Regions from separate parts of the Homo sapiens genome. Here regions 2, 3, 4, 5 and 6 are each linked to region 1. The links come from fine-mapping of genetic effects on gene expression. A gene starts in region 1. Each other region holds a variant in brackets. All regions are shown on one strand. Distances are between the middles of the regions.

Region 1 (5,073 bases):
GTGATGGGGTGAGCGGTTTGGCAGGAAAAATGGTTAAGGCGGGGCAGGAAATCGGAATGAGTCAGGGTGGAGCAGGTGATTGAAATGAGTCAGGGTGGAGCAGGTGATGGAAAAAGGTTGCTTTACGAGGAAGTTAAGTTTAAAAGTAAAAGGCAAAGATTGACCATACTGACATATTGATTCTTTGAAGAGAAATTTAGAATTCATATCTAACACAACCGTTTTTGCAACAACACACAACCCAAGAAAGCTGGTCTCAATATTATTATTATTATTATTATTATTTTCCGAGACAGGCTCTTACTCTGTCACCCAGGCCGGAGTTCAGTGGCTCAATCTTGGCTCACTGCAACCTCTGCCTCCCAAGCTCAAGTGATCCCCCCATCTCAGCCTCCCAAGTAGCTGGGACTACAGGCGCATGCCACCACTCCTGGCTAATTTTTTTTGTTTTTTGTATATTTTTTGTAGAGATTGGGTTCACCATGTTGGCAAGGCTGCTCTCTCAAACTCCTGGCCTCAAGTGATCCTCCCCAAAGTGCTGGGATTACAAGCATAAGCCACCACGCCTGATCCCCAATCTTTTTTTGTTTGTTTTGTTTCATGAGACAGACTCTTTCTGTGGCCCACGCTGGAGTGCAGTGGCGTGATCTCGGCTCACTGCAACCTCTGCTTCCTGGGTTTAAGCAATTCTCCCGCCTCAGCCTCCCGAGTAGCTGAGAATTACAGGTGCCCACAACCACGCCTGGCTAATTTTTATATTTTTAGTAGAAACAGGGTTTCACCATGTTGGTCACGTTGGTCTCAAACTCCTGATTTCAAGTGATTCACCCACCTCAGCCTCCCAAACTGTCAGGCCTCTGAGCCCAAGCTAAGCCATCATATCCCCTGTGACCTGCACGTATACATCCAGATGGCCTGAAGCAACTGAAGATCCACAAAAGAAGCGAAAATAGCCTTAACTGATGACATTCCACCATTGTGATTTGTTTCTGCCCCATCCTAACAGATCAATGTATTTTGTAATCTCCCCCACCCTTAAGAAGGTTCTTTGTAATTCTCCCCACCCTTAAGAAGGTTCTTTGTAATCTCCCCCACCCTTAAGAAGGTTCTTTGTAATTCTCCCCACCCTTGAGAATGTACTTTGTGAGATCCACCCCCTGCCCGCAAAACATTGTTCCGCGGAGCCTCTCCCAAAACCTATAAGAATTAAAGATAATCCCACCACCCTTTGCTGACTCTCTTTTCGGACTCAGCCCGCCTGCACCCAGGTGAAATAAACAGTCTTGTTGCTCACGCAAAGCTTGTTTGGTGGTCTCTTCACACGGATGCGCGTGACACAAAGTGCTGGGGTTACAGGCCTGAGCCACCACACCTGGCCACCCCCAATCTTTAAGAATATTCTGGCCGGGCGCGGTGGCTCATGCCTGTAATCCCAGCACTTTGGGAGGCTAAGGCGGGCGGATCAAGAGGTCAGGAGATCGAGACCATCCTGGCTAACATGGTGAAACCCCGTCTCTACTAAAATACAAAAAATTAGCCGGGCATGGTGGCGGGCGCCTGTAGTCCCAGCTACTTGGGAGGCTGAGGCAGCAGAATGGCGTGAACCTGGGAGGCGGAGCTTGCAGTGAGCCGAGATCGTGCCACTGCACTCCAGCCTGGGCGACAGAGCGTGACTCCGTCCCCCCCCCAAAAAAGAAAGAATATTCTGTATGTAGTTTTTTTGTTTTGTTTCTGACAGACGCAAACGCACTCTTCTAGTAATGACTAAAGACTTCTTCGTTTAATTCACCAATGAACTAATCTGACAATTTATGTAACAAATAAATTCCTATAAACATAAGCTCCCTTGCCCCTCTCCAGTGGCACAATCTCTGATTTGCCATCCTGGTTGCAACCTTCATTACTAAGTAAACGCTTACGTAAACCTTAATAATGAGATTCGGGCAATATGATTAAATATTGGTTTATTTGAGTGCAAAGTTTGAGGATGGCGACCCGGTAGGACACAGACTCCAAAAGATGGGGGTCAGTGCTTCGAAAGGGAGAAGTTTGAGGGTCGTTTACACAGGCAGGGTCTGGGAAGCTTAACAGGATGTCAACATTTTCCATAGAAGGTTAACGCATAGCAATTTGATTGGTTCAAGGCAGTGTTTCTTTTTGGGAAGGGTCTATTTAACATTCCACATTAAGGATGTAATAGTCAAGCGGTCATTTATCTTATTCAATGCGTATTTTATCTCAGATGCCATCTGGTCTGAGCTGGGAACAAGAAAATAAGGGAGTTAATCTATAACAAAAGGTCGGCAATTAAGAGGTCGTGCTTCGTGATCTGGTCTCCAAAGTCAACTTTCCTCAGGGACTTTCAGAATCCCCAAATAGACTATCCACTTTCTTTCACACTTATTTGCCTCTAACTTGTTGATTTCTTTTTTTTTTTTCTGTTTTTTAAGGGTTAACAATCTCTTGGGTGCACTCTGACTTCCATGCGCTTTATAGAAAAAATTGGTCCTGAGGCCAGCAGCAACAGTCGGTCTCAGGAACTTGTTAGAAATGCACATTTTTCAGCCCCACCCCAAACCTACTGAATCAGCAGTTTTGCTGGTGGTTCTCAATCTCTCTTTAACGTGCCCTCTGGGTGCTGCGGATGCACGCTGAAGGTAGAAGATCGCTGCAGGAGATTTCCGCGTCGGGCAGATGAAAGCGCTCTGCAAGCCCGGGTGTTATCTGCGGGCCGGGTCCGCGGCTTCTCTGGTGGCACTAGGACCGCGGCGGCGCGGCCCTCGCAGCCACCGCCTCGGGCGTGAGGCGGAGCGTAGCTGTTCCTGGATCCTGGGCCTGGCTCCTCGACCCGCCCCTGGAGGCGGACCCCACTTGACTTAAACTCTGGGGCCCGGGAGGCCGCCGGTTTTCTCCCCGCTTGCCGGGGTGGTCCTCTTCCCTTTGTCGGTAAGTGTGAGACGAGCACCCCGAGGTCCCTCCGCCTTCCGGGGTCCGGGCGGGGCGGGGGCCGGGAGCCGGGAGCCAGAGGCACTCGCGGTCCGGGCCTGCGCGCGGCGCAGAGCGCTTTTGTTCTGCGGCAAAGACGCAGTCGCGGGCGGCCCCGGAACCCGGGCCTCGGGCCCCGCCGGCTCGCGCGTCCCGCCGTCCGCCCACCGGAGCTGGGCCGGGCCGCCGCGCTTGCTTCTGCCCGCCGCACCGGGGCCGGCCCTGGGCCTCCGCGGATGCCGAGCCTTGCACCGGAGGGCGGGCCTCGCTGGCTGTTTTCCCTCATTGCCTGGCTCTGCGCGGTAGAGGTCGCGAGTGGCGAAGGCTAGGACGCATTTTGTCGAACTGCGAGGCGCGGCTGGTGAGGCGGGTGGGTATGAGAGCTGCTTATGTTTTTAAGGCTTTCCTGTCGCTGGAGTGAAAAAGAAAAATCTTTTTTTTTTTTTGCTATTTCCCGAGGGTTCTCCTCCTCCCCGGCCCTCTTAAGCCGAAGCCTCCTGGAACAGAATTGCTGTACTGGCATCTATCTCCAAGTGGTCCGCGAACGCTTCTGCGCCGGCGATGGTTTCTGTTCCTCAGCAATAGTTCCTTGAGGCATTTTTAAATGCACAAACGCATACCCATCTTAGGTGTTCTCGAGGGACACGGATTCCCTAAGCAAACGTCCTTAGGGTCCTGAGTTCAGCAGCAAACTTTCGGGGAATCATTTCCGTGAAAACAATTTATTTGTAGTACATCGAGTGCATACTGTCTTAACATAAGGATGTGTATGAGCTTGAGGCGCATTTTCATTTAGTGGCGGGCGGGTGCATTTCAGTAGGCGGGCCGCAGAGCTTGTTTGGGGATTGCATTTTTCTGCTAAATGTGTTAGCTTTAATCATGTTTCAGTCACTGTTAATGTGCATGCATGTTAAGGTTTTAGGTTTTTTCCCCTGTGCAGTCGGATTTTTTTCTGTTTAATATTAATCCAATAAAGACAAGTGCAGAGATAAAGTATTATTGTTTTGCAGTGATACTACAATAGCGGACCTAGAGGAGCGCACATAAATTCTAACTTAAGTGAATGGTATTTTCAGGCCAGACCTAGTTTCTATTTCTGTTACTTAGGACACTTAATAAGAATTCAGTAAACTTAGCATGCTTTCAGTGCAGCCATAAAAGAAAACAGTTTTGCACAGCAGTGTCATATCTAGTAAACACATTAGCATGTGCTCTTTTATTATAAAATGTTTCTTGCTGTCCCTAGGACCAAAGAAGTAAACACTGTGTGGAGAGGGACTGACGTGTTTGGAGGGAAATGGGAATGTACACGATAATTAAAGAGTAAAGTTGTGCTCAACGGTAAGTGTATCACCTCTAAGAAACCCGCCCTGATTTAACCAGGCGGTTATTCACACTCAACTATGGAGTAATTCACCTATTACCGAATAAAATTACTAGCTCAGTGAATCAACATCGGTTTTAAATTAAACTGTGGGTCACAATGGAATTGACAGCAAAGCTTGAGAAGAAATGTTGTTGGCATAGTACTGAAAAATCAGTTGTTAATCTTAGCAAAATAAGGAAAGAGGTCTTTGGTAAGGGAATTGTGGTGGAAGTTACCTGGGCAGAGGTCTGCTTCTGTCTGTGCTGTGTTTATTTGATTGTTTTTATTATATTTTATTACTGTTGGTGGCACATAGGGGAATGTGGCGCAGAGCACCACTCTGGGAGGATGCTTCCCGTGCAGCCAAAGTGATCATGTCCAGGGCTTTCATCTGTAACCACAAAGTGTGTTAGGAAGTCTCACCTAATGATTAAGACCATGGTCCCTGTAACCACACTGCTTTGGTTCAGATCTTGGCTGTAGCACTCAGCCAACCCTGGAAAATAAACCTCTGCCTGTTCTCTCATCTATAAAATGGGGACAAGCACTAATGTCATAGGATTGTTATGGTAGAGTTACATGAGTTTCATGCATATCACAGTTAAACAGCTCCTGATGCATGGCAAGTGCCCAATAAATGTTAGCTATTGTCATGTTAGAGGAAATAGATTTTGTGGCCTGGGACATGTAATGCTGCCTTAGCAGAAATTCAGCTGGTTCAT
Region 2 (5,073 bases), 200 kb before region 1:
AAAGAATCCTGTAATACCTTACAAGAATGAAAGGACAAAAATGGGGATTATTTCAGAAATACAAGGATAATAAATTATTAGGAAATCTATTTTATAAAGAGACCCAAGGACAATCAACTCAACAGACTTTGAAAAATAATTTGATTAAAAGCTTTTGGGAGGCCAAGGTGGGCAGATCATGAGATCAGGAGATTGAGACCATCCTGGCTAACACAGTGAAACCCTGTCTCTACTGAAAATACAAAAAATTAGCCAGGCGTGGTGGCAGGCACCTGTAGTCCCAGCTACTCTGGAGGCTGAGGCAGGAGAATGACGTGAACCTGGAAGGTGGAGGTTGCAGTGAGCTGAGATCACACCACTGCACTCCAGCCTGAGCGACAGAGTGAGATTCCATCTCAAAAAAAAAAAACAAAAAAAAAACCTTTTAACATTTATTTATTTATTTATTTATTTATTTATTTAGACAGAGTCTCGCTTTTTCACCCAGGCTAGAGTGCAGTGGTGCGATCTCAGCTCAGCTCACTGCAACCTCAGCCTCTTGGGTTCAAGTGATTCTCCTGCCTCAGTGTCCCAAGTAGCTGGGATTATAGGCATGCATCACCATGCCTTGCTAATTTTTGTATTTTTAATGGAGATGGGGTTTCACCATGTTGGCCAGGCTGGTCTCGAACTCCTGACCTCAAGTGATCCATCTGCCTCGGCCTCCCAAAATGCTGGGATTATAGATGTGAACCACAGTGCCTGGCCCATCTACTTTTCAATCAAAAATGATCATAAAAGAATAAGAATATAAGTTGACAGCAAGAATGAGGAAATAAAAAATTTTTTTAATTAAATTTGAAAAATAAAAAAAAAGAATAGAAGACATTTCCTTAATATGAATCTATTTTAACCTCAAGACAGCTTATGTTCAAAGGAAAATATTAGAAGTACTCCCATTAACAAAAGATTTTAAATAATGATGACTACTATTATCAGTAATATTTTTCTATCTAATGTGTTTATCTTTATATTTGGGGGAAAATTAGAAGTTAAAAGTTATTGGAAACAAGACAACAATGCCTGCTGTCATCACTTGCATTCAAAATTGAACTGGAAGTTCTAGCCAAGGCAATTAGGCAAGAAAATAAAATAAAAGGCATCTAGGTTGGAAAAGAGGAGGGACAACTATCTTTTTTTGCAGATGAGATAAAAATCCCTAAACAATTCACAAAAAATCCATTAGGGCTAATAAACAAGCTCAGAATGGTGCAACAATGCAAGATCAATATACAAAAATCAGTTGTATTTCTATAAAGTAACAATGAACAATCCAAAAATAAAATTAAGAAAATAATTCCATTTATAATACCATCAAATATAATAAAATACTTTGCAACAAATTTAACAAAAGAAGTGGATGACTCAGCCAGGCAAGGTGGCTCACACCTGTAATCCCAGCACTTTGGGAGGCCGAGGCAGGCAGATCATGAGGTCAGGAGTTCGAGACCAGCCTGGCCAACATAGTGAAACCTCATCTCTACTAAAAATACAAAAAAATTAGCTGGGTGTGGTGGCGGGCACCTGTAATCCCAGCTACTCGGGAGGCTGAGGCAGGAGAATTGCTTGAACCCGGGAGGTGGAGGTTGCAGTGAGCTGAGATCGTGCCATTGCCCTCCAGCCCAGGCAACAGTGTGAGACTCCGTCTCAAAAAAAAAAAAAAAAAGAAACAAACAAACAAAAGAAATGGATGACTCATACTGAAAAAGAGATCATTGAAAGAGATGACTCAGGAGGCTGAGGCAGGAGGATCAGGAGTTTGAGTTTGTAGTTAGCTATGATCGCGCCACTGTACTCCAGCCTGGGTGACAGAGCAAGATCCTACTGAAAACCAAAAAGAGAAGCAAGAAAAAGAGAAAAAGAAAGAAGACTAGTTGAAACAACATCTGTTTTCATGGATTGGAATATCTAATATTGTTAAGATATCAGTACTTCTTAAATTAATCTGCAGACTCAACACAATCCCTGTCAAAATTCCAACAGCATTTTTAATTTTTTCAGAAATGTAAAAGCTGATCCTCAAATACATATAGAACTGCAAGGGGCCCTGAATAACCAAAACAATCTTGAAAAAGTTAAAAATTGAAAGACTCACACCTCCCCATTTCAAAACTTTGCTTAAAGCTATAATATCAAGACTGTAGTATGGGCATAAGAATAGACATGTAGTTGAGGACAATGAATTGAGAGTCCAGAAATAAACCCAGACTCTTGCATCAATTGATTTTCAACAAGGCTGCCAAGACAGTTCAATGGAGGAAAGAATAATCTTTCAACAAATGGTTCTGAACAACTAGATATCTACATACAAAATAATGAATTTGGCACCTGAGTACCATACACTATATACAAAAATTAACTCAAAATGGATCAGGACCTAAACATAAGAGCTAAAATTATAAACTCTTAGAAGAAAACATAGATGTAAATCCCTGTGACCTTGGATTAGGTAA[TG/T]TTTTTTTAGTTATGGCACCAAAAACACAAACTATAAAAGAAAAAAATAGAAAAATTGATCTACTCCAAAATTAAACACTTTAGTGCTACAAAGGACATTATCCAGAAACTGAAAAGACAACCTATAGAAAAGGATAAAATATTTGCAAGTCATTCTAGTAAAGAACTTGAATTGGCCGGGCATGGTGGCTCACGCCTGTAATCCCAGCACTTTGGGAGGCCGAGGCAGGTGGATCACAAGGTCAGGAGATAGAGACAAGCCTGGCTAACACCGTGAAACCCCGTCTCTATTATGAATACAAAAAATTAGCCGGGCGTGGTGGCGCATGCCTGTAGTCCCAGCTACTCGGGAGGCTGAGGCAGGAGAATGGCGTGAACCCGGGAGGCGGAGCTTGCAGTGAGCCAAGATCGTGCCACTGCACTCCAGCCTGGGGGACAGAGTAAGACTCCGTCTCAAAAAAAAAGAACTTGTATCTAGAATATATAAAAAACTCTAACAATTCAGCAATAAAAGACAACCCAACTAAAAAATTGACAAAGGATTTTTTTTTTTTTTTTGAGATGAAGTCTTGCTCTGTCCCCCAAGCTGGAGTACAGTGGCGCAATCTCCACTCACTGCAACCTCCGTCTCCTAGGTTCAAGTGATTCTCCTGCCTCAGCCTCCAGAGTAGCTGGAATTACAGGCGCCCGCCACCACGCCCAGCTAATTTATTTTTTATTTTTTATTTTTAGTAGAGACGGGGTTTCCCCACATTGGCCAGGCTGGTCTTGAACTCCTGACCTCAAGTGATCTGCCTGCCTCGGCCTCCTAAAGTGCAAGGATTACAGGCATGAGCCATCCACAGGCCAAGACAAAGGATTTGAATAGGCATTTCTTCAAAGAAGACAACAAATGACCAATAAGCATATGAAAAGATGCTCAATGCTGCTAATCATTAGGGAATTACAAATCAAAACTAGGAGATACTAAGTCATACCCACTATGATGGCTACTCTAATTTTTTTAACTTTTAATTTTTTTTTTTTGAGATGGAGTCTCACTCTGTAGCCCAGGCTGGAGTGCAGTGGTGTGATCCCATCTCAGCTCACTGCAACCTCCGCCTCCCGGGTTCAAGCAATTCTCATGCCTCAGCCTCCTGAATAGCTGGAACTACAGGCATGTGCCACGATGCCCAGCTATTTTTTAAATTTTTAGTAGAGACAGGATTTCACCATGTTGGCCGATCTGGTCTCAAACTCCCAACCTCAAGCGATCTACCCGCCTTAGCCTCCCAAAGTGCTGAGATTACAAGTGTGAGCCACTGGGCCCAGCCGTATAATAATTTTTTAAAACAATTACAGGTGTTGATGAGGTTGTGGAGAAATAGGAACCCATGGAAATTGCTGGTAGAAATATGAAATGGTAGTAAAAAAACAGTTTGGGAGTTCCTTTAAAAGGTAAACCTAGAGGCCGGGTGTGGTGGCTCACGCCTGTAATCCCAGCACTTCGGGAGGCTGAGGCAGGTGGATCATGAGGCCACACGGTGAAACCCCATCTCTACTAAAAATACAGAAACCAAATTAGCTGGGCGTGGTGGCAGGCACCTGTAGTCCCAGCTACTTGGAAGGCTGAGGCGGGAGAATGGCGAGAAACCAGGAGGTGGAGCTTGCAGTGAGCCGAGATCGCGCCACTGCATTCCAGCCTGGGCAACAGAGGGAGACTCCGTCTCAAAAACAAACAAAAAAAAAACTTAAACCTAGAATTACTAATATGATGAGCAATTTCACTCCTTGGTACGTACCTTAGGGAATTGAAAACATATGTTCATATAAGATAGCAAAAAAAGGAAACAACTGAAATGTTAATCAACTGATGAATGGATAAACAAAATGTGGTATATCCATAAAATCGAGTATTATTTAGTCATAAAAAGGAATGAAGTATGAAAGATGCTAAAACATAGATGAACCTCAAAAACATTGTACTCACTGAAAGAAGCTATATACAAAAAGCTTCCCTTTTTATAGGAAATGTCCAAAATAGGTAAATCCACAGAGACAAACTATAGACTAGTGGCTGCCAGAGCTTAGGGGGAAGGAAGGATGAGGAGTGACTAATAATGGCTACGGAGTTTCACTTTGGGATGATAAAAATGTTTTGAAACTAGTGGTGATGGTTGTACAACCTTGTGACTACACTAAAAATCACTGACCTACACACTTTAAAATGGTGAAATTTATTTGTGCTTGAATTATATCTCAAAAATATGGTTAAGTTTTAAGTTTATTATAACAGAATTAAACTTTTAGAAAAGGGAAAAAATGGTTTTACAGGGAAAGGATGTGGTAATTTTATAAATTATTTCTAGATGATAGGATTATATACATGGAAAAACCTGAGAGAAAAACACAAAATTTTATAGATCATAAGAGAATTCAGGTGGACTAGCATGACATTAACAGTCAAAATCAATCATTTTCATATATACAAACAATAAGCAGTTCAAAAACATCTATTTACAATAGCAACAGAAAAATAATTTCTGGGAATAATCTAACAATAAATGTGCAAAATCTAAACGAAGAAAACTTTAAACTCGC
Region 3 (5,073 bases), 290 kb before region 1:
CATTGTGAATCTCTGTGCACTGGGACATTATCTGTAGGAATCCCCTGAGGTCTGAGTAGATGGTGCATTTTTCCCAAGAGGATTTGTGTCTGCCAGACATCCAGAGTAAGCACTTATGTTAATTTATGGGCTAGGAATTTCCTGAAATATGTAAATAGTGTTTATTTGACCCCAAACCCAAGTGAGTATTGACCTGTCTTTGAGGGTTATTTTTATTCCATTAGAACCCAGGCTGAGACAGGTAAGTTTTTATTTGATCTGATTTTCTTCTGGTCTACCCTTTCACTGAGAATATAGTCCTTGAAAACCTTTATTTTATTTTATTTATTTATTTATTTTGAGACAGAGTCTCCCTCTGTCACCCAGGCTGGAGTGCAGTAGCACAATCTCAGCTCACTGCAAGCTCCGCCTCCCGGGTTCACACCATTCTCCTGCCTCAGCCTCCTGAGTAGCTGGGACTATAGGTGCCTGCCACCATGCCTGGCTAATTTTTTTTTTTTTGCATTTTTAGTAGAGATGGGGTTTCACCGTGTTATTCAGGATGGTCTCAATCTCCTGACCTCGTGATCTGCCCGTCTTGGCCTCCCAAAGTGCTAGGATTACAGGCATGAGCCACCGCGCCTGGCTGAAAACCTTTATTTTATAAAGGAGTCTCAGTTCTTTTTTTTTCTTTTTTTTTTTTTGATACAGAGTCTCACTCTATTGCCCAGGCTGGAGTGCAGTGGCACGGTCTTGGCTCACTGCAACCTCCACCTCGTGGGTTCAAGTGATTCTCCTGCCTCAGCCTCCCGAGTAGCTGGGATTACAGGCATGCACCACCATGCCCAGCTAATTTTTGTATTTTTATTAGAGACAGGGTTTGACCATGTTGGCCAGGCTGGTCTTGAACTCCTGACCTCAGGTGATCCACCCGCCTCGGCCTCCCAAAGTACTGGGATTATAGGCGTGAGCCACTGCGCCCAGCCAAGGGGTCTCAGTTCTAATTTATTGCCATGCTCAATCAAGCCCAAGTCTCGTTTCCCTGTCCACAGTAAAAAAACAAAATCTTTTGGTTAATGAAATCAGCAAATATTCCTAAAAGTCCCAGCATTTCTAGGTGTTTTGAATTGTTTGTTTTCAGGATATCCAGTCATGTATTTGGAAATTGTGGTATAGCTTATATTGGGATAACCTTTATACTTCTCTACTTTAAAAAACAACTTTCATCAAAAAGGAAGAAAAATATATTGTTAGCAGATCTTCTAAATTATTTAATCAACATGGAATTATAACAGCCTAGCATATACCAATTCATTTTGTGCTTTTTTTTTTTTTAAGTTGCAGGAATGGCTATTACACTAAATTGTGAATTGAACAGACTGAATCCTTTTCCTATTTTAATCCAAAACATTTTGAATTTGGAACAAGATAAGTGGGACCTTGTTGTTCTTGGCGATATGTTTTATGATGAAGACCTTGCAGATAGTCTTCATCAGTGGCTGAAGAAGTGCTTCTGGACCTATAGAACTCGAGTACTGATTGGTGACCCTGGGCGGCCCCAGTTCAGTGGACACAGCATTCAGCATCACCTGCACAAAGTGGTAGAATATTCACTTTTGGAGTCTACTAGGCAGGAAAACAGTGGACTGACAACAAGCACAGTGTGGGGTTTTCAGCCTTGAGTTGTCAAAGTGCTTCCAAGTATGAATATAGTAATGTTTGGATCTGACTCTAAAAGTTTTCTCTATAGGAGATACTCTCCAGTTTAATGAATGTAATTCTTGTTAAATGGAAAATCTTGTTTTTAAAATATGAAGGTTTAGAGTTTTGTTTACTTTTGTCATGTAACTGGTTCTGTATTTCTATGCATGCCAATTATACACATCTCTATCTGCATTTTTTTTTCTATTTTAACCGCTGAAGGAATATGATTATACAATGCCATACTCAATGGTGGCAGCATTTAATTTAAGTAATGGAGAAGAATTAAACATTGTAGCTGGATCTGTTTCTGTAGTCGAGGACAACTGTGATGTAACTTTGAATTAAACAAACAAAACAAAACAGAAGAAGACTATATATATATTTTTTCTTTTTTTAGAGACAGTCTCACTTTGCTCCCAGGCTGGAATGCAGTGGCTATTCAGAGGCTTAATCATTGGGCACTGCAGCCTTGAACTCTGGGCTTTTTTTTTTTTTTGAGATGGAGTCTCAGCTCTGT[C/A]GTCCAGGCTGGAGTGCAGTGACTCATGTCTCGGCTCACTGTAGCCTCCACCTCCCCCAATCAAGCGATTGTCCTGTCTCAGCCTCCAGAGTAGCTGGGATTTTAGGTGTGCACCACCATGCCTGGCTAATTTTTGTATTTTTAGTAGAGACGGGGTTTTGCCATGTTGGCCAGGCCGGTCTCAAACTCCTGACCTCAGGTGATCCACCCGCCTTGGCCTCCCAAAGTGCTAGGATTACAGGTGTGAGCCACCACGCCAGCCTGACGATGTTTTTTACTTCTATCACTTCCTTTTGATTTTTTCTTATAGCTTCTATCTCTGCTTACGTCACCCATCATTCTTGCGTGTTGTATGCTTTTCGCATTAGAGCCCTTTGCATGTTAATCAGTTATTTTAAATTTATGATCTGGTAATTCTAAAATGTCTGCCATAACTGAGTCTGGTTCTGATGCTTGTTTTCTTTTCAGACTGTTTTTTTGTCTTTTAGCATGCCTTGTAATTTTTTGTTGATAGCTAGACATGATGTATTGCATAAATAAACAAGTAAACTAAGGTAGCATGAGGTTTTAAAATCTGGGTAGGGCTACTGTTTGCTGTAGAGTAGATATTACAGGCTAAATTTTCCTCTAGTGTCCTGGCTATTGTCTCCTCTGTTATCTTTGAGTTTCCCTAGAGATTCCTTCTTATATAGAGTCTGAAGCTTGCAGTTTTTTTCACCTGTAATTCCCTGTTATTATACAGTAGCCTAACTGATGTGATAAGGTATGGGAGAAGGTATGTTCTATAGTCCTGTGATTAAGTCTCAGTCAGTTAAGTCAGCCTGTGCCCCTGCTGTGACCTTCACAAGTGCTTTCAGCTTTTCTTTTGTCACTTTGGTGAGACAGGAAGGCTAGAGGCAGCTGGAGTTGGGTGCTTCCTTTCCCCCAGGTCAACGAGGCTCTGGTAAAATAGTTTCCCTTGAGAACTGGCTTTTGTTAAGGAGAACTGAACACTTGGGCATATTTCAAAATGGTTACTTTCCCTATCCTCATACCAGAAGAGGGGATTTTTCTCTGATCCTCACCCTGAGAACCTGGTAGGTATCCTGGAGGTAAAACTATGAAAGTGTGGTGTCTCCCCTAGGAGTGGGCCCCCTGGAGTTTGTTTGTTTTAATTTAACAAAGTTTAATTGAGCAAAGAACAATCTGTGAATTGGGCAGCTCCCAAAAGCAGAATAGGTTCAGAGTGACTGCAGGGTTGCCACACCTGGTTAGATAACGTTTATGGACAGATTCCTAGAGCTTTTGATTCTTTTTTTTTTTTTTTTGAGGCAGAGTTTCACTCTTATTGCCCAGGCTGGAGTGCAATGGCGTGATCTTGGCTCACTGCAACCTCCACCTCCTGGGTTAAAGTGATTCTCCTGCCTCAGCCTCCTGAGTAGCTGGGATTACAGGTATACACCACCAAACCCAGCTGGGATTACAGGCATGCACCACCATGCCCAGCTAATTTTTGTATTTTTAGTAAAGACAGGGCTTCGCCATGTTGGCCAGGCTGGTCTCGAACTCCTGACCTCAGGTGATCCACCTGCCTCAGCCTCCCCAAGTGCTGGGATTACACGTGTGAGCCACTGTGCCAGGCTGGAGCTTTTGATTCTTAAGTCCATCCACATGGAGCCTCCAGCAACTCAGGAATTACAGCATAAATGTTCCTATTGGTACTGGCTCCAGCAACAGGCTTCTGCTCCCTGTAAGCTATGGTTCTTTGTATTTGCGTTTCTAATTTGTGAGGCATTCTCTCTTTAACCTTAATTCTCTAATGGATCTAAGTGTTGTTGACTTTTCAGTTTATTGAGCTTTTTTCTTATTGTGAGGATGGGAATGATGACTTCCAATCTCTTTATATTAGAAAATATAAATCAGACTAGAGACTGGAAATTTTTGTTGTTGTTGTTGGGTGTTTTGTTTTGTTTGTTTTTAGACAGGTCTTGCTCTCTCATCCAGGCTGGAGTTCAGCAATGCGACCGTGCTCACTGCAGCCTCGACTTTCTAGGCTCAGGTAATCCTCCCACTTCAGCCTCCTTAGTAGCTAGGACTGTAGGCATGCACCACCATGATGCCTGGCTAGTTTTTTTATTTTGTATTTTTTGTAGACATGGAGTCTTGCTACATTGGCCAGGCTGGGTATTACTGGGTATTTCTTTCTTTCCTCCTTTATTTCTTTCCATATTTACTTATTCAATGAATATTTGAGTGCTTATTATATACCAGGCACTGTTCTAGGCACTGGGGATATGGGGATACAGCAATGAAAAAAAAAGATAAATACTTTGTCCTTATGAAATTTGTATTCTAGAGTAGGGAGACATAATGAACAAATGAAAACAGGCATCAGATGGTGATAGGTAGTAAGGAGAAAAAGAAGTAAGGGTAATAGGGAATACTGGGTACTGGATGGGGTACAGATATTTTAAACAGAGTGGTGAGAAATAGTTAATACAGCTAGCAACATAAAAAAGGAGAAATATCAAACTGCAAACTGTTTTAGGAAGATAAATCCTTCATAGACCCAAAGAAGCTCACAATTTAGATGTCGAAACTAGTTTCTGCAAAAAGGGGAAAATGTGATTGACTTGGTTAAATATTCAGTATTAAATTTTATTGAATTTGTCTTTAGAAAAATTTCATAGTTAGAACAGGCCTTACCCATTTTGCACATATATACATATGCACCACCTTTGCAGTGGCAACATATATATCCACACTATAAACATACCACATTTATAAATCTTGTAAGGACAAGAAATGGAGTTGAATAAGTACCCCCCAACATATACAAGAAAGTTAGCATACTTACCCCGTTTTTCACTACATCAGAGGCAAAATAAGAAATC
Region 4 (5,073 bases), 210 kb before region 1:
ACGTAATCATGCCTGGTAGATGAAAATGTCAAAGGGAAAGAAAGTAAGTGTAACAAACATCTATTAGCTGTGCCTCTATTTTAACAAAATTTAGGCCTCTCTAAATTACAAAGTAAGTGGAATGGTTGAGTGTGGGAGGGCATTAGGGGTGCAGATTTTAGAAGTATTTTATTAGATTTAGGGTTTGGGATTAGATTAGATGAGGGGTAATAAATGATTGCTAGGGAGAATGACTGGATCAGGGAACAGAAATTAACTTGTAGGTAGTTCTCTTTGGAATTTAAATGATCCTTGGAGAGAGTCAGTCATTATCTTGAAAAAGGGTCTGTTTAGGTGTGGTTACATTTTCGGTCTTACAGATGTTACCAAAACACCCAAGATTCAGTCTAGGTCCTGTTGCTCCCCTCACAGAAAGCCAATCATTAAGACAATGAGTATTGCCAGGGAAGAAGGCTGTAATCCAGTGCTGCAGCAGAGGAGATGGGAGATCAGTCCCAAATCCAACTCCCTGACTGTCTAAAATTTGGGATTTGTATAGCAGGGAAGAAATGTAACTATGTGTGGAAAAACGGGAATTTTAGGGAGGGGTAAGGAAGAGAAAGGGGTCAACAGGAAGCAGGCAGTCATGATTGGTGAGGCGTCTGGCTCCCTTTGTCCAGATGTGATGATCTGGTAAGTTTCAGCTCCTTGATACTGTCTGGGAGGACTGATGGTTTCTTTTCTGAGAAAGCAACTCAGATAAGACAGATGTAATTTTCTCAAGTTTTAAGACCAGGAGGATAAATTTCTATGTTTATTAAAAAGAACCATAAACATCACCTCTACAGGACAATTGGGCAGGTTTCCCAGGGAAGGGAAGAAAACTATTGTTCTCCTTGGTGGGTCTGGAGCTTAGGCAGGTAAAGGAACTTGAGCCTCTTTGGAAGAGCTGGTGAGGGGTGGGTAGATCAGAGAGACCTTGAGTCTTCTTAGTTCAGGATGTAAACATGCCATATTTTGGGGAATTGGTTTCTAAGCCTCAACATTACAGACAGGAATGAAAACCGACCTTGTCTGGAGGAGAACTTTCCAAGTTTGGTACAGAGGACTCCCACAGATTATGATGAAGCCATCAACTCACAAACTGGATTACCAAACACACAAGAAGGCAATCACTGTGAGAGTCAGCAGAAACAACTGATTTAGATTTCTCAAATATTTCTAGTATTAGAATTATAATTACATATATACGACATAAAACAGCTGTGTATGAAGTGTTTAAAGAAGTATATAATTTAAAAAGTGAGCCTTCAACTAGAAACAGGAATGAACAGAAACATTTTGGAAACAATCCAAAAAGAACCAGGAATTAAAAATATAATGGGGTGACTCACATCTGTAATCCCAGCACTTTGTGAGGCTAAGGCGTGTGGATCCTTTGAGATCAGGAGTTTGAGACCAGCCCAGTCAACATGGCAAAACCCCGTCACTACAAAAATACAAAAATTAGCCAGGCATGATGGCACATGCCTGTAATCCCACCACTTTGGGAGGCCGAAGGGTGGATCATTTGCGGTCTGGAATTCAAGACAAGCCTGGCCAACATGATGAAACCCCATCCCTACTAAAAAGACAAAAATTAGTCAGGTGTGGCAGTGTGCGCCTTATAATCCCAGCTGCTTGGGAGGCTGAGGCAGGAGGTTGCAGTGAGCCGAGATCGCACCACTGCACTCCAGCCTGGCCACAGAGCGAGACTTCGTCTCAAAACAAAAAAAAAAAAAAAAAAAAAAAAAATGAGGTCGGGGATGGGGAAGTGGTGGTAGGAACTCAGTGGAGGGATGAACTAGCAGATTAGATAACTCAAGTGAGAATTTGTGAACCAGAAAATATATCTAAATAACTGATCCAGAATGCACAGGGAGAAACAAGGAAATGGAAAATATGAAAAAAAGGTTAAAAGATATGTAAGATAGGATGAGAATGAGACAGGATAGTTCATAGTTCAAGGTCAAGTCTTGACCTTGACCCCCTTTGTGGGCAGGAACTGGAGTGGCTTGTTTCACTCAGCCTGCAGTCCGTGGATGGCTAAGTGTTAACAGCCCAGGCTGACAGCCTTCTGCACCTGCCCTTCTTGACACCCGAATTCTTATTCAGAGTCCAGGAAGAATCAGGTCACATAAACTTTTTGAAGGGTAGTGTATATGGAAGATTTTACTGTGTGATAAAAGTGGCTCTCAGCAGGATGGGGAATTGGAAAGGGGATGGTATGGGAAGAAACTGCTCTTTCTCTGAAGCCGTGTCTATCTGTAGTTTCCGATGCTCAGCTGCATGTATTCCTGATGCTCAGCAGCTTGTATCCCCGACCACTTGCATCAGCTGCTGAGGTTGCTCTTTTTCTTCCTTTTGTTCTGCTAGCTGGTCTGGTATTTATAGGCATATGACAGGGGGTGGAGCGGGCCAAAAAAGCAATCATTTGGGTGGAAAAAATGGGGTCAGCTGTTTCACTTAGGACTGAGGTTCCAGGCTTGAGGGTGAAGTTTAGCCTGGAGCCCAGCAGTTCTGCATCAAGAAGATTTAACATACACTTAGTTTCAATTAGAAAGATAGTGAGAAAAGA[G/T]TAGAGGCAATGTGTAAAGAGATAATGGCTGTGAATTTCCCAGAACTGGTGAGAAGCATATACCCACAGATCTTGAAAGCAAAGAAAAAAAAAATAAGGAAACAGGGAAACAAATTTAAAATATAATTTTTAAAAAATTGCAGAGAAAAAGGAAACGAGTCTAAAAATGTAAAATGGCATATTACTAAAAAAGATTCCAAGTAGTCAAGAGCAATCTATGTCCTGATAAAATTATTAGATTTCAAAAAGAATTATTTAAAAGCCAGAGAATAAATCACTTATAATGAGAAAAACAGGCTGATTTCAGATTTCTCCACAGCATTTGTTCTTAGAAGACATTATGTATACATACCAATAAAATCCTCCAGCAAAGAGATGTGACCCAGGAATTTTGTATGCAGTCAAACTGTTGCTTAAATATAAAGGTAGGTGGTGTGGTGCCTCACGTCTCTAATTCTAGCACTTTGGGAGGCTGAGGCAGGAGGATTCCTTGATCCCAGGAGTTCAAGACCAGCCTGGGCAACATGGTGACACCTTGTCCCTAATAAAAATAAAATTAAAAAAAAATTTAGCCAGGCATGATGATGCATGCCTACAGTTCCAGCTACCTGGGAGGCTGAGGTGGGAGGATCGCTTGAGTGCAGGAGATTGAGGCTGTGGTGAGCCATGGTTGCACCACCACACTCCAGCCTAGGTGACACAGTGAGACCCTGTCTCAAAACAAGACAAAACAAACACACACACATATATATATTTGTTTATATACATACATATGTATGTATGTATATAAAGCCAAAGAGTTTTGAAAACACAACATCTTAAGGGTATTGTTTGTATTAACTCACATGAAGAATCCACCAATGGACAAATGTTGTCAAACCAGAGATGACTAGAAAGCACTGGGTAGATAGCATAAGCGCTGCTGGTAAATTGGCTTAAAACTAAAATAAATGTGGGATTGTTGTTATTAAACAGAACAAATATACACATTAAGAAACATAATATAATTAACAAAAATTGAGAAGTTGTAGAGAGAAAAAGGAGGTGGAAGGAAGAAGAAAGCTACTAATTTAATTATTAGCAATTATCAGAATAGGGCATTGATAATAGTGGTTAAAGAAAGAAGATCAGGGCCGGGCACAGTGGCTCATGACTGTAATCCCAGAACTTTGGGAGGCCGAGGCAGGTAGATCACAAGGTCAGGAGATGGAGACCATCACGGCCAACATGGTAAACCCCGTCTCTACCAAATACAAAAATTAGCTGGGCCTGGTGGTGTGGCACACACCTGTAATCCCAGCTACTCAGGAGCGTGAGGCAGGAGAATCGCTTGAACCTGGGAGGAGGAGGTTGCAGTGAGCCAAGATCGCGACACTGCCCTCCAGCCTGGGTGACAGAGCGAGACTCCATCTCAAAGAAAAAAAAAAAAGAAAGAAGATCAGACATTTGACAAAATACAAACATGCATAATTATCAGAAGAAATGGACATACAACAAAAACATCTCACATACGAAAACATCTCACATACGAAAATATTTTTAACTTTGAAACCATGAATTATAACATGAAATAACATGATATAGTCATGACCAAACATGTCTTTCATATCAAAAATTTTAAACAATTGTAATAATTGTAAATGAGTTTAATTCATCTAGTAAAAGGGGAAAAAGTCAGATAGAACCACAAATAAAAAATAATTCAATACCATAAAAACAAAGACAAACCTAAAACTAATAGATTCAGAAGGACAGAAAATGAAGAGAAAAAAAGATAAATGGGCAAACCTGTACTAGGCTAATGCAAACGAAAGTAATTGTTATCTTAATTTCAAATATGGAGAAAACAAAACTACTGGGGAAAGGGAGGGTCCACTGAGAACCATCCCAGTAACTCAACCACGGCTGGTCTTCGCTGGACACCATGAACCACACTGTCCAAACCTTCTTCTCTCCTGTCAACAGCGGCCAGCCCCCCAACTATGAGATGCTCAAGGAGGAGCACAAGGTGGCTGTGCTGGGGGTGCCCCACAACCCTGCTCCCCCAACGTCCACCGTGATCCACATCCGCAGCAAGACCTCCGTGCCCCACCATGTCGTCTGGTCCCTGTTCAACACCCTCTTCATGAACCCCTGCTGCCTGGGCTTCATAGCATTTGCCTACTCCGTGAAGTCTAGGGACAGGAAGATGGTTGGCAACGTGACTGGGGCCCAGGCCTATGCCTCCACCACCAAGTGCCTGAACATCTGGGCCCTGATTTTGGGCATCCTCATGACCATTCTGCTCATCATCATCCCAGTATTAATCTTCCAAGCCCATAGATAGATCAGGAGACATCACTGAGGCCAGGAGATCTACCCATGACCTGTATCCTTTGTACTCCACCTTCCATTCCTCGCCCTGCTCCCGGAGCCAAGTCCTGTATCAGCCCTTTATCCTCACACACTTTTTTACGACGGCATTCAATAAAGTGTAC
Region 5 (5,073 bases), 35 kb after region 1:
CTTGAAGTCCTAAGTTAGGGTAAAGAGATGAAGAGGAAATGACAAGAATTTCTTGGAAAGCAACTTAGAGACCCATCTGGGGCTTCAGTGTTACTAATTCTGAAAGAAAGCAAACGAAAAAGTGGAAGACTGCAGCAGATCTAAAGAACTAACAGGACAGAATACTCCACCCATTCAGGTAGAAAAAGACAAAACAAGACCCCATTATTCAGAAGAAAATAGCTGCAGCAGGAATGAAATGTACAGATAGTCCCTGACTTGGCAGTGGTTTGACTTAGGATTTCTTGACTGTGATGGTATGAAAGTGATACACATTCAGTAGAAAGTGTATTTCGCATACCCATACAGCAATTCTGTTTGTTTGTTTGTTTGTTTGTTTTTTGAGACAGTCTCGCTCTGTCACCCAGGCTGGAGTGCAGTCGTGTGATATCGGCTCACTGCAACCTCTGCCCAGCTAATTTTTGTATTTTTAGTCAAAACAGGGTTTCGCCATGTTGGCCAGGCTGGTCTTGAACTGGCTTCATGTGATCTGCTTGCCTTGGCCTCCCAGAGTGCTGGGATTACAGGCGTGAACCACCATACCCAGCCTCAACATATTTTCAATAGGTGATGGGTCATTATGAAAAAAGGACACTGAAGCTAATGTAACACTGAAATGGTCTCAAGAAACAGGAAACTATAGACATGTTTTAGAATATCCAATACATGGCAAGACCAAAATATGAAACCTATCCTTTTCATGTATTGTTTGGGACTGACTCATATTTGTACTCTTTGTATTGCTAATTTACATAGCTGTTTAAAAGATCACATTCATACTAATGATATGCAATGATACATTTTATTGAGCCAAGAGTAAGGTAGAACAGAACAGCCCAGGGCAATGAGGATGGGGCAAGGAGGCAGGAGTAGAAAACAGCCCCCAAAAGAAAGGCAAGATGTCACGTGTATATAACTTACAATTCTATAAGTGAAGAGCTATGGTTCTGAAACTTTTGCTTAACTCCTTGCCTTAATTTTTTATCCCTCCAATATATATTTTCCCTCTGAATTTTGATTATATATTGATCACAGCTAACATTGAGAAATAAAGTAAGTAAAGTTTTTATTTCCCTTAGATAATGTTAATTCAAGACTCTCGAAGAGAAGCTTCAGTGCAGATGGATTTGAGATGCTACAAAACCCAGTAAAAGATTCAAAAGAAATGTTTCAAACCTACAAACAGATGTACCTGGAGAAGAGAAGCAGAAGCCTTGGTAGCAGTCCTGTAAAATAATTACAAGATGTGGTTTTGTAATTGCCACTGGGAAATTTCTTTCCTTTTCTGTTCAAAATATTTCGCTGAAACTAATGAGAAATGCCATGATAAAGATTTCTCAGAGTTTGGTTCCCACTTTCATTGTATTTCATTGAAAGTGCTTAATTAAAATGGCTTGAGAACTTTGGGTAGCCATGTGTAAGAAATGGATGGTATTCACCGGGGAAACAAGGTATTTGAATTTCTACTTTATTGAACCAGATTTACCATTATTTTAAAAGGAATGCTTATACAAATCAATTTGAAATTCTACCCATCTTGAGGGAGGACCGTTCCTCAGTTAAGGACTTGTTTATTTAAATGGGACTGTAAATATGTTTTGGTTTCTAAGCTATATTAGCAAAATTTATTTTTCAAAAATGCCCACTGTGATGTGAATGTCAAAATATATTCTTAAGTGTTTTATAACTAATTGTAAACTTTTTTTCAGAAGTCTTATTTTATACTTGTGAAACTGAACACAATTTTGGGACAACGTTTAAACATTACTTTTCATACTTGAAATAAACATTTATTTTTTAAAAAACTAATTTGAAACCTTCACAGCTCAGTTTCTTTTTGGTTTCCTACCTTTAAAAGGACGCATTTTGGAAAGTGCTTTCAAAAGCTGAAATGCGAGGTGGCTTATGCCTGTAATCACAGCACCTTGGGAGGCTGAGGCGGGCGGATCACAAGGTCAGGAGATGGAGACCATCCTGGCTAACACGGTGAAACGCCGTCTCTACTTAAAAAAAAATACAAAAAATTACCAGGACAAGGTGGGAGGCACCTGTAGTCCCAGCTACTC[G/A]GGAGGCTGAGGCAGGAGAATGGCGTGAACCCGGGAGGCAGAGCTTGCAGTGCGCCGAGATCGCGCCACTGCACTCCAGCCTGGGCGACAGAGCCAGACTCCTTCTCAAAAAAAAAAAAAAAAAAAAGCTGAAATGTCACAGCAGTTGTGCCAGTAGGTATTTTTAGATTGCGTTCACATGAGAACACAAAAAAATTTACTAGGTTCAGGAAATTTCAAGAAACTGGAAGGCAAGATATAACTTTATTTCTAGTTTTACTTTATGACTACGAGAAAAGGGTTGGAGTTTTTGTTTTGAGACAGGGTCTCACTCTGTCGTCAAGGCTGGAGTACTGCGGTGTAGGATGAATGTTCACTGCAATCACTGCTCCTGGGTTTAAATAATCTTCCCGTCTCTGCCTCATGAGTAGCTGGGACTACAGTGTGCTAATACACCTGGCTAATTTAAAAAAAAATTATTTAATTTGCTAATCTTTGTATTCTAGTGTGCTGCCAAAGTGAGCACATAATTTTGTTTTTTTGTTTGTTTGTTTTTGTTTCTTAATGTTTGGAGAATTTTTGTGGTTTTTTTGTTTGTTCTTTGAGACGTACTCCCGCCCTGTTACCCAGGCTGGAGTGCAATTGCGCGATCTGGGCTCACTGCAACCTCCGCCTCCCGGGTTCAAGCGATTCTCCTGCCTCAGCCTCCAGAGTAGCTGGGATTACAGGCGCCCGCCACCACGCCCAGCTAATTTTTGTATTTTTAGTATAGATGGGGTTTCACCGTGTTGGTCAGGCTGGTCTCGAACTCCTGACCTCAGGTGATCCGCCCACCCCAGCTTCCCAAAGTGCTGGGATTACAAGCATGAGCTACTGGGTCCAGCCTGTTTGTTTTTTTTTGAGACGGAGGCTTGCTCTGTCGCCAAGGCTGGAGTGCAGTGACGCCATCTTGGCTCATTGCAACCTCCGCCTCCCGGGTTCAAGGATTCTCCTGCCGAATAGCTGGAATCACAGGTGCCCGCCACCACGCCCAGCTAATTTTTGTATTTTTAGTAGAGACGGGGTTTCACCATGTTGGTCGTCAGGATGGTCTTGAACTCCTGACCTCGTGATCTGCCTGCCTCAGCCTCCCAAAGTGCTGGGATTACAGGCGTGAGCCATCTTGCCCAACCCTGAGCACATAATTTAAAAATACATACATTTTTGGAGACATGAGATTCTACCCTGTTGTCCAGACTGGTCTTGAACTCCTGGGCTCAAGTAATCCTTTGGCCTTGGCCTCCCAAAGTCCTGGGATTACAGATGTGAGCTACCACGCCCAGAGCATGTTGGTTATTTTTATAAAATCTTAATGTTGTATATATATATATAAAATTTTCATTTGAAAACTATGTACAAGGTAGACCAATGGATTTTAATGAAACATTGCAATTTTTTGTGCTTTTAGCTTTCATATTACAACCAACCTTTAGGAAACAACTACGGTCCTCTGTCATTTAATGACAGGGATATGTTCTGAGAAATACATCTCTAGGTGATTTTTTTTTTTTTTTTTAAATGGAGTCTCATTCTTTTGCCCAGGCTGGAGTGCAGTAGCACGATCTCCACTCACTGCAACTTCCGCCTCCTGGGCTCCAGCAATTTTGCTTCAGCCTCCCGAGTAGCTGGGATTACAGGCACACACCACCATGCCTTGCTAAAGTATTTTTAGTAGAGACAGAGTTTCACCATGTTGGCCAGGCTGGTCTTGAACTCCTGACCTCAAGTGATCTGCCCGCCTCAGCCTCCCAAAGTGCTGGGATTACAGACATGAGCCACCACGCCCAGCCTACTTCATTTTTTAAATAGTAAAAATCTATAAATATTGTCATGCCAAAATAAAAGATTGATTCACCTCAGGTGATCTGCCTGCCTTGGCCTCCCAAAGTGCTGGGATTACAGGTATGAGCCACTGCACCTGGCCAATTTTGGTCTTGTGTGACTATCCTAGAATGTACTAGGTTTGTGTAAACCTAGATGGTACAGGTTGAATATCCTAAATCTAAAATCCAGAGCTGGGCACAGTGGCTCATGCCCGTAAACCCCAGCACTTTGGGAGGCCAAGGCGGGCAGACCACCTGAGGTCAGGAGTTCCAAGACCAGCCTGACCAACATGGTGAAACCCCATCTCTACTAAAAATACACAATTAGCATGGTGTGGTGGCAGATCCCTGTAATCCCAGCTACTTAGGAGGTTGACGCAAGAGAATTGGTTGAACCCCGGAGGCGGAGGTTGCAGCGAGTCGAGATCACGCCATTGCACTCCAGCCTGGGCAACACAAGCAAAACTCTGTCTCAAAAAAAGAATAAAATCCAAAATGTTCCAAAATCTGAAACTTTGAATGCCAATGTGATACTCAAAGGAAATACTCATTTGAGCATTTTGGATTTTGCATCCTTGGATTAAGGATGCTTAGGTGGTGAGTATAATGCAAATATTCCAAGATCCAAAAATATCTGAAATATTTTCAGTCCCAAGTATCTCTAATAAGGTGTAGTCAACCTAGATGTCCTACTGCATACCTAATCACTATGGTGTATCTTATTGCTTATAGGCTACAAATGTGGACATCATGTTACTGTACTGAATGCTGTAGGGAATTATAACAATAGTTAAGTATTTGGGTCTTCAAGCATAGAAAAGCTACTGTAAAAATGCAGTATAAAAAAAAATGATGCCGGGCACAGTGGCTCACACCTGTAAACCCAGCACTTTGGTAGGCCAAGGCGGGTGGATCACCTGAGGTCAGGAGTTCGAGACCAGCCTGGCCAATATGGTGAAACCTCTGCTCTCCTAAAAATACAAAAATTAGCTGGGTGTGTTGGCGCATGCCTGTAATCCCAGCTACTTGGGAGGCTGAGGCAGGAGAATCACTTGAGCCTGGGAGGTGGAGGTTGCAGTGAGCTGACGTTGTGCCACTGCACTCCAGGTTGGGCTACATGAACAAAA
Region 6 (5,073 bases), 230 kb before region 1:
CTGCCTGTCAAACCTTTACTCTTTTTATTTCACTCTCTACGATACATTTCCTCCCATTTGCAACCGTCAGATACTACCAATGTTCAAAAATAACCCCCTTGACAAAGCTTTCTCCTATTCTTTTCCTTATTAGAAATTTCAAAAGTTTGTTACTCTCCCGCTTGTGATATTATTCTACATATATTATAGTTATTTATTTTATTTTTTTGAGACAGTCTCGCTCTGTCGCCTAGCAGCCTAGGCGTGCAGTGGCGCGATCTCAGCTCACTGCAACCTCTGCCTCCTGGGTTGAGGCGATTCTCCTGCCTCAGCCTCCAGAGTAGCTGGGACTACCGGCGCCACTACTACTCCTGGCTAATTTTTGTATTTTTAGTACATGCCGCGGTTTTGCCGTGCTGGCTAGGCTGGTCTCCAACTCTCCTGATCTCAAGTGCCTCGGCCTCCCAAAGTGCTGGGATTACAGGCGTGAACCACCGTGCCCAGATAATTTTTGTATCTTTAGTAGAGGCGGGGTTTCGCCACGTTGCCCAGGCTGGTCTCGAACTCCTGAGCTCAAGCAGTTCTCCCACCTCGGCCTCCCAAGTTTAATGTAAAATATCAGATGCCATTGTTTCAGAAAGCCTTCAGTAGATTAAGGAGATTGTTCTCCTTATCCTTAAGATGTCTATTTTTTACATGGCAATATTAACGGACTGAAAGCTCCTGGAGAGACGCAATTGCCCTTGTAACTTCCATTTCCGTACAATTTCTGGTAGGAAATAATAATAACAATAACACTTAGTGGTGTTTATTATTTGCTGGGCATCCTTATAAGGGTTTTACATGTTTTAAATTTATCCCTCAGGACAACTCCATGTGATGGGTGCTATTATCACAAAAATTTTATAGATAAAGAACCTAGGCACAGGGAGAGGTTACGTTACCGGTCCATGGTCACGTGGCTGGTGAATGGCAGAGCCGGGGGCTGAACCCAGCAATCTCAGCCAGGGATCCGTGGTCTTAACCACTTTGTTACCTTTATCCCAGGGTCTGTCAATGTTTATTCCAGTTACAGGGGTGGAATTCTGCTAGAAGCTTTTGAGAACCTCATCTAGCGTTGTGTTTTTTTCTACCAAGGCTTTTAGCTGCTAAGAGAGAGGCCACTGCCAGTAACAGCCGGGGCGCCGAGCTGTCAAGGCTGACGGAGGAATGGACGCTCATCGCGCAGCGGAGTGTTGGAGGGGCAAGCCCGCCAAGAGACCCACTTTGCACAACTGTCCTCAGCCAGGAAACGACAGATCAGGAACCCAGGGACAGAAACACACGCGGGGCCTCTTCAGAGGTCGGCGGGGGGGGTGGGAAAGGGGCGGGGAGGAAGAGCAGCGCAGGGCCTGGCCGTTTGGAGGAGGTGCTGGGGCGGCGCGAAGGGAGGCGGGACAGGGTAGACTCACAGATCCAGGAGCTGACTGACCCGCCGTGGGCGAGGCATCGCTGCAGCGTCTGAAGCCTCTTCCGCGGTCCCAGGGCCTCCAGAACCCAGCCAGGGACCGTCCGCCAACTCCCGCCCACCGCGCGACGCGTAGGTTTTTGTGACGTCACACGGATTTTTCCGGTGACCGGGGCGTGGCCACGCTTCGGACTCCACAAGGAAAGAAGAGAGCCCCCTTTGGGGCGGAGCCACTGAGGGCTGCGCGGAAGAGGCTGGGTGTGATAAACTATAAAGAGGCCCTAAACTCGGATGCAACGTGACGGGAGTTGTAGTTCTTTCACCTGGCGGGCGTCTGCTCCGGTTCAGCTGCAGGAGGTTTCTTGGGAGTTCAGCCCAGCGCGCAGCCCCGCCGCGACGCCGCGAGCCGAGAACTCTCCTGGGGCGAAGGGAGCGCTGAGAAGTCGCTACTCTTACTAAAAGGATGCGTTGGATGCTGGGCCATACCCTTGGCGATGCACACTGGAGACCCGCTCGGATACGGACTCCATTAACATCAAACGGAGCGTGTTAGAGGATCCGAGTTTACTGAGCACTTTCTAGGAAGCGTGCACTGAGCTACGTGCTTTCTAGGCCTTAGTTCAATACTTAACCATATTCATTATAATCCGGTGAAATCGTAATTATTTAGCCTTATTTTACAGATGAGGACACTGCGTACCAACAAGTAACCTCACTAAGAATTTCGTCATGGAGGAGAAGGGAACCTGTATTCAAATTAGGAAGGATCCTGAAGAAAGGGCACCTTTAGGTGGAATTTTATCTTTGGTTCTGCTGCAGAGTACTTGCTGCTTTTTAGTGCTCCCTCCACCCCCCTCATTCTTCCTTGTAGATTAGTCTGTTGTTTGTATGCTGAGTTCCTTTTTTAAGCTCCTTGAAAGTTGGAACCCACTGCTGTTGCCTGTTCAGGATGCTACACATTGAATCAACATGGATTTATTAAGCGCTGAACGAGGGCTAGGGATCGTGCTGGGTGCTGAGGATTGAGTGGCGAACACTTGGGTCAGACAAGTAAAAGGGCAATTAGAATAACTGTTAAATGCTTAGATGGGGTTAGTTCTATGGAAGCACCCATGGGGGTGGGATACAGATCAGAGAGAAAAGGGTGGTCTGCAAATAGTTTGGGATGGCTACACTGGAGAGTGATCAAGAGTGAGTGTAGGGCAGGGGTTGGCCGACTTTTTCCATAAAGTGCTCTGAAAGTTGCAGATTCCAGGAGAAGTAACTATTGTCAGACCCAGACAAATTGGAGCCTAGAGACCAGAAAGGAAGGAAACTCATGCTTGTATGTCTGAGATAAGAACTGTCTCAAGGCCAGACGCGGTGGCTCACACCTGTAATCCTAGTACTTTGGGAGGCCGAGGCGGGCGGATCACGAGGTCAGGAGTTTGAGACCAGCCTGGCCAACGTGGTGAAATTCCCGTCTCTACTAAAAATACAAAAAAAA[A/AAAAG]AAAAAAAAACTGGGTGTGGTGGCGGGCGCCTGTAATCCCAGCTACTGAGGAGGCTGAGGCAGGAGAATCGCTTGAACTCGGAGGAGGTTATAGTGAGCCGAGATCGTGCCACTGCACTCCAGCCTGGGCGACAGAGCAAGACTCCGTCTCAAAAAAAAAAAAAAAGAAAGAACGAACTGCCTCAAGGACTTTAAAAAATAAACCAAAAAACCCACAATTTCTTCACATCTTTCATGCATTTAATGTTTTGCACAACTTGCTTGTTTTGCAAATATGCGCACATTTCTATGACAAGATTTATTGCTAAATATTCTTTAAAACTGCAGCAGTTCAGATAAGATACTGTCGAAAGGACGTTTGGCCCAGCAGCAGGACCTCCACCAATGAACGGACTCCAATTCTTGATTTGAGCCTTGGGAACCAATCAACTTAGTTTCCAAGAGTTTATGTGAACTTCCCTCCTTTACCAGTAAAATCTTCCCCCTATTCTTCCCTTCTCCAGACCCGTGGCTTGCCATAGCTGTACATCTTGGATTATAATTCTTTTTGTTCACTCCCAAAGAAACTCAGTATCTTTGGAGAATTCTTTCTTTGTTGTCTTTTAGCTTCCCAGAGCCAAACAAGAAATATTTTAGGTTTTGTGGGTCATGCTGGCTTGGTCACAGCTATTCAACTTGTATCTTAAAATTAGCCATAGACAGTATGAATGGGTGGGTCTCTGTTCCAATAAAACCTTATCCTAAACACTGAAGTTTGAATTTTATGTAATTTTCAACTGTCATGAAATACTCATCTTTTGATCTTTTTCAGCCACTGAAAAATGTAAAAGCCATCCTTAAGTTGCAAGCTATACAAAAACAGACAGTGGACTGGATTTGACCCTTGAGCCATTTGTCCATGTGCCCTCACCTGATCTAGAAAGCTAAAATGCACATGCCTCACGCCTGTAATCCCAGCACTTTGGGAGGCCAAGGTGGGCGGATCAGCTGAGGTTAGGAGTTCGAGACCAGCCTGGGCAATATGGAGAAACTCTACTAAAAGTACAAAAAAATTAGCTGGGCGTGGTGGCAGGTGCCTGTAATCCCAGCTACTCAGGAGGCTGAGGCAGGAGAATTGCTTGAACCCAGGAGGCGGAGGTTGCACTGAGCCGAGATCACACCACTGTACTCCAGCCTGGGCAACAAGAGTGAGACTCTACCTCAAAAAAAACAAAGAAATTACGAATTTTAAGATGGTGATAGCAGAGCACTAAACCCAGAGTGGGGCCCGTGTGACTGCACATTTTGCCCACCCATGAAGCCAGCCCTGGGTGCGTCCAACTTCAGGATTCCCCCCCCCAAAAATCAGTTCAGGAACCCTATGTCAAAATAAAAATCAAAGACAAATATGAGCACAGAGAGACATTTTTACTTGCAGTTCAAGAAAATCAGACTTTCAGAGAGTGGCTCGCTAAATAGAATAGAGGAATTTATAGCTCAGATGAAATGGCAGATATTTATAGCTCAGATATGGCAGTTCATTCCAATTGGATAAGAACAAGATGTTCCTGTTTTGTGGTAAGGAAAACAGGATGTTCTTGTTTTTGTGGCTTATCTCTGGAGGCAAAGCTTTTAGGATTTCCCGTTAGTCAAGGCTTTTAGGAGGTTCCCGCTATTCATGGTTTATCTTTGAATGCAAAGTTATTGGGAATGAAAGTCTTTTCTAGTGTATGGTAAGTGATTTGTAGGCAGGGTTAGGCTAAGGGCAAGATATTTTCCTTTTCTCCTCTCTGTTTGCTGTGCCCACTTTAATATAGTTTCCTCTAGCTCAGAATCTCCTCCACTTCCTACCATAGCTACCATACAAAGTAAACGTTATCATAGATTGTTGCTGTGGGTTTGTTTTACTTTACTCCAGGCTGGAGTGCAGTGGCGCAATCTCGGCTCACTGCAACCTCTGCCTCTCGGATTCAAGCAATTCTCCCGCCTCAGCCTCCCAAGTAGCTGGGATTACAGGCATGTGCCACCATGCCAGGCTAATTTTTTTTTTTTTGTATTTTTAGTAGAGACGAGGTTTCACCATATTGGCTAGGCTGGTGTCGAACTCCTGACCTTGTGATCCACCTACCTCGACCTCCCAAAGTGCTGGGATTACAGGCGTGAGCCACCGTACCCGGCCTCT

Which allele goes with the higher level. Positions count from the first base shown, and alleles are read on the strand shown. Sizes are in standard deviations (SD) of each study's normalised expression. Not every link is listed here.
For the expression in skeletal muscle of the gene that starts at base 2,870 in region 1, allele A in region 6 goes with a higher level than allele AAAAG (moderate effect, 0.56 SD a copy in FUSION).

What was found. PIP is the estimated chance that this variant, and not a neighbour inherited with it, causes the effect.
Region 2: its variant is fine-mapped to the expression of RESF1 in whole blood (TOPMed, PIP 0.95).
Region 3: its variant is fine-mapped to the expression of RESF1 in whole blood (INTERVAL, PIP 0.99).
Region 4: its variant is fine-mapped to the expression of RESF1 in whole blood (INTERVAL, PIP above 0.99).
Region 5: its variant is fine-mapped to the expression of RESF1 in whole blood (TOPMed, PIP above 0.99).
Region 6: its variant is fine-mapped to the expression of RESF1 in skeletal muscle (FUSION, PIP 0.95).

What each region holds. Positions count from the first base shown.
Region 1 is chr12:31,956,546-31,961,618 of GRCh38, forward strand. RESF1 (retroelement silencing factor 1) reads left to right here and starts at 2,870. Exons shown (of 6, transcript NM_018169.4): 1 at 2,870-2,946; 2 at 4,232-4,326. LOC105369725 (a long non-coding RNA gene) reads right to left here and starts at 2,759. Exons shown (of 2, transcript XR_931503.2): 1 at 2,583-2,759; 2 at 1,948-2,259. RefSeq lists enhancers at 492-991, 995-1,788 and a silencer at 2,841-3,180.
Region 2 is chr12:31,761,526-31,766,598 of GRCh38, forward strand. No RefSeq gene overlaps it. Among named protein-coding and RNA genes, the nearest start is that of H3-5, 28 kb to the right of the region's middle. The variant TG/T (reference allele first, on the strand shown) is at 2,493.
Region 3 is chr12:31,666,330-31,671,402 of GRCh38, forward strand. ETFBKMT (electron transfer flavoprotein subunit beta lysine methyltransferase) reads left to right here. Exons shown (of 4, transcript NM_001135863.2): 4 at 1,318-5,073. The coding sequence ends at 1,661. AMN1 (antagonist of mitotic exit network 1 homolog) reads right to left here. Exons shown (of 7, transcript NM_001113402.2): 7 at 4,813-5,073. Among named protein-coding and RNA genes, the nearest start is that of ETFBKMT, 9.2 kb to the left of the region's middle. The variant C/A (reference allele first, on the strand shown) is at 2,201.
Region 4 is chr12:31,750,200-31,755,272 of GRCh38, forward strand. LOC105369724 (a long non-coding RNA gene) reads right to left here. Exons shown (of 4, transcript XR_931501.3): 2 at 2,949-3,137; 3 at 1,049-1,154. It also overlaps the pseudogene IFITM3P2. Among named protein-coding and RNA genes, the nearest start is that of AMN1-AS1, 23 kb to the left of the region's middle. The variant G/T (reference allele first, on the strand shown) is at 2,597.
Region 5 is chr12:31,991,260-31,996,332 of GRCh38, forward strand. RESF1 (retroelement silencing factor 1) reads left to right here. Exons shown (of 6, transcript NM_018169.4): 6 at 1,119-1,848. The coding sequence ends at 1,276. Among named protein-coding and RNA genes, the nearest start is that of RESF1, 34 kb to the left of the region's middle. RefSeq lists a silencer at 2,629-2,793. The variant G/A (reference allele first, on the strand shown) is at 2,106.
Region 6 is chr12:31,727,541-31,732,613 of GRCh38, forward strand. AMN1 (antagonist of mitotic exit network 1 homolog) reads right to left here and starts at 1,481. Exons shown (of 7, transcript NM_001113402.2): 1 at 1,431-1,481. The coding sequence starts at 1,468. AMN1-AS1 (AMN1 antisense RNA 1) reads left to right here and starts at 1,725. Exons shown (of 1, transcript NR_198987.1): 1 at 1,725-3,664. LOC105369722 (a long non-coding RNA gene) reads left to right here. Exons shown (of 3, transcript XR_931497.3): 3 at 1,117-1,350. RefSeq lists a silencer at 1,270-1,349 and enhancers at 1,400-1,749, 1,762-2,394, 1,790-1,989. The variant A/AAAAG (reference allele first, on the strand shown) is at 2,913.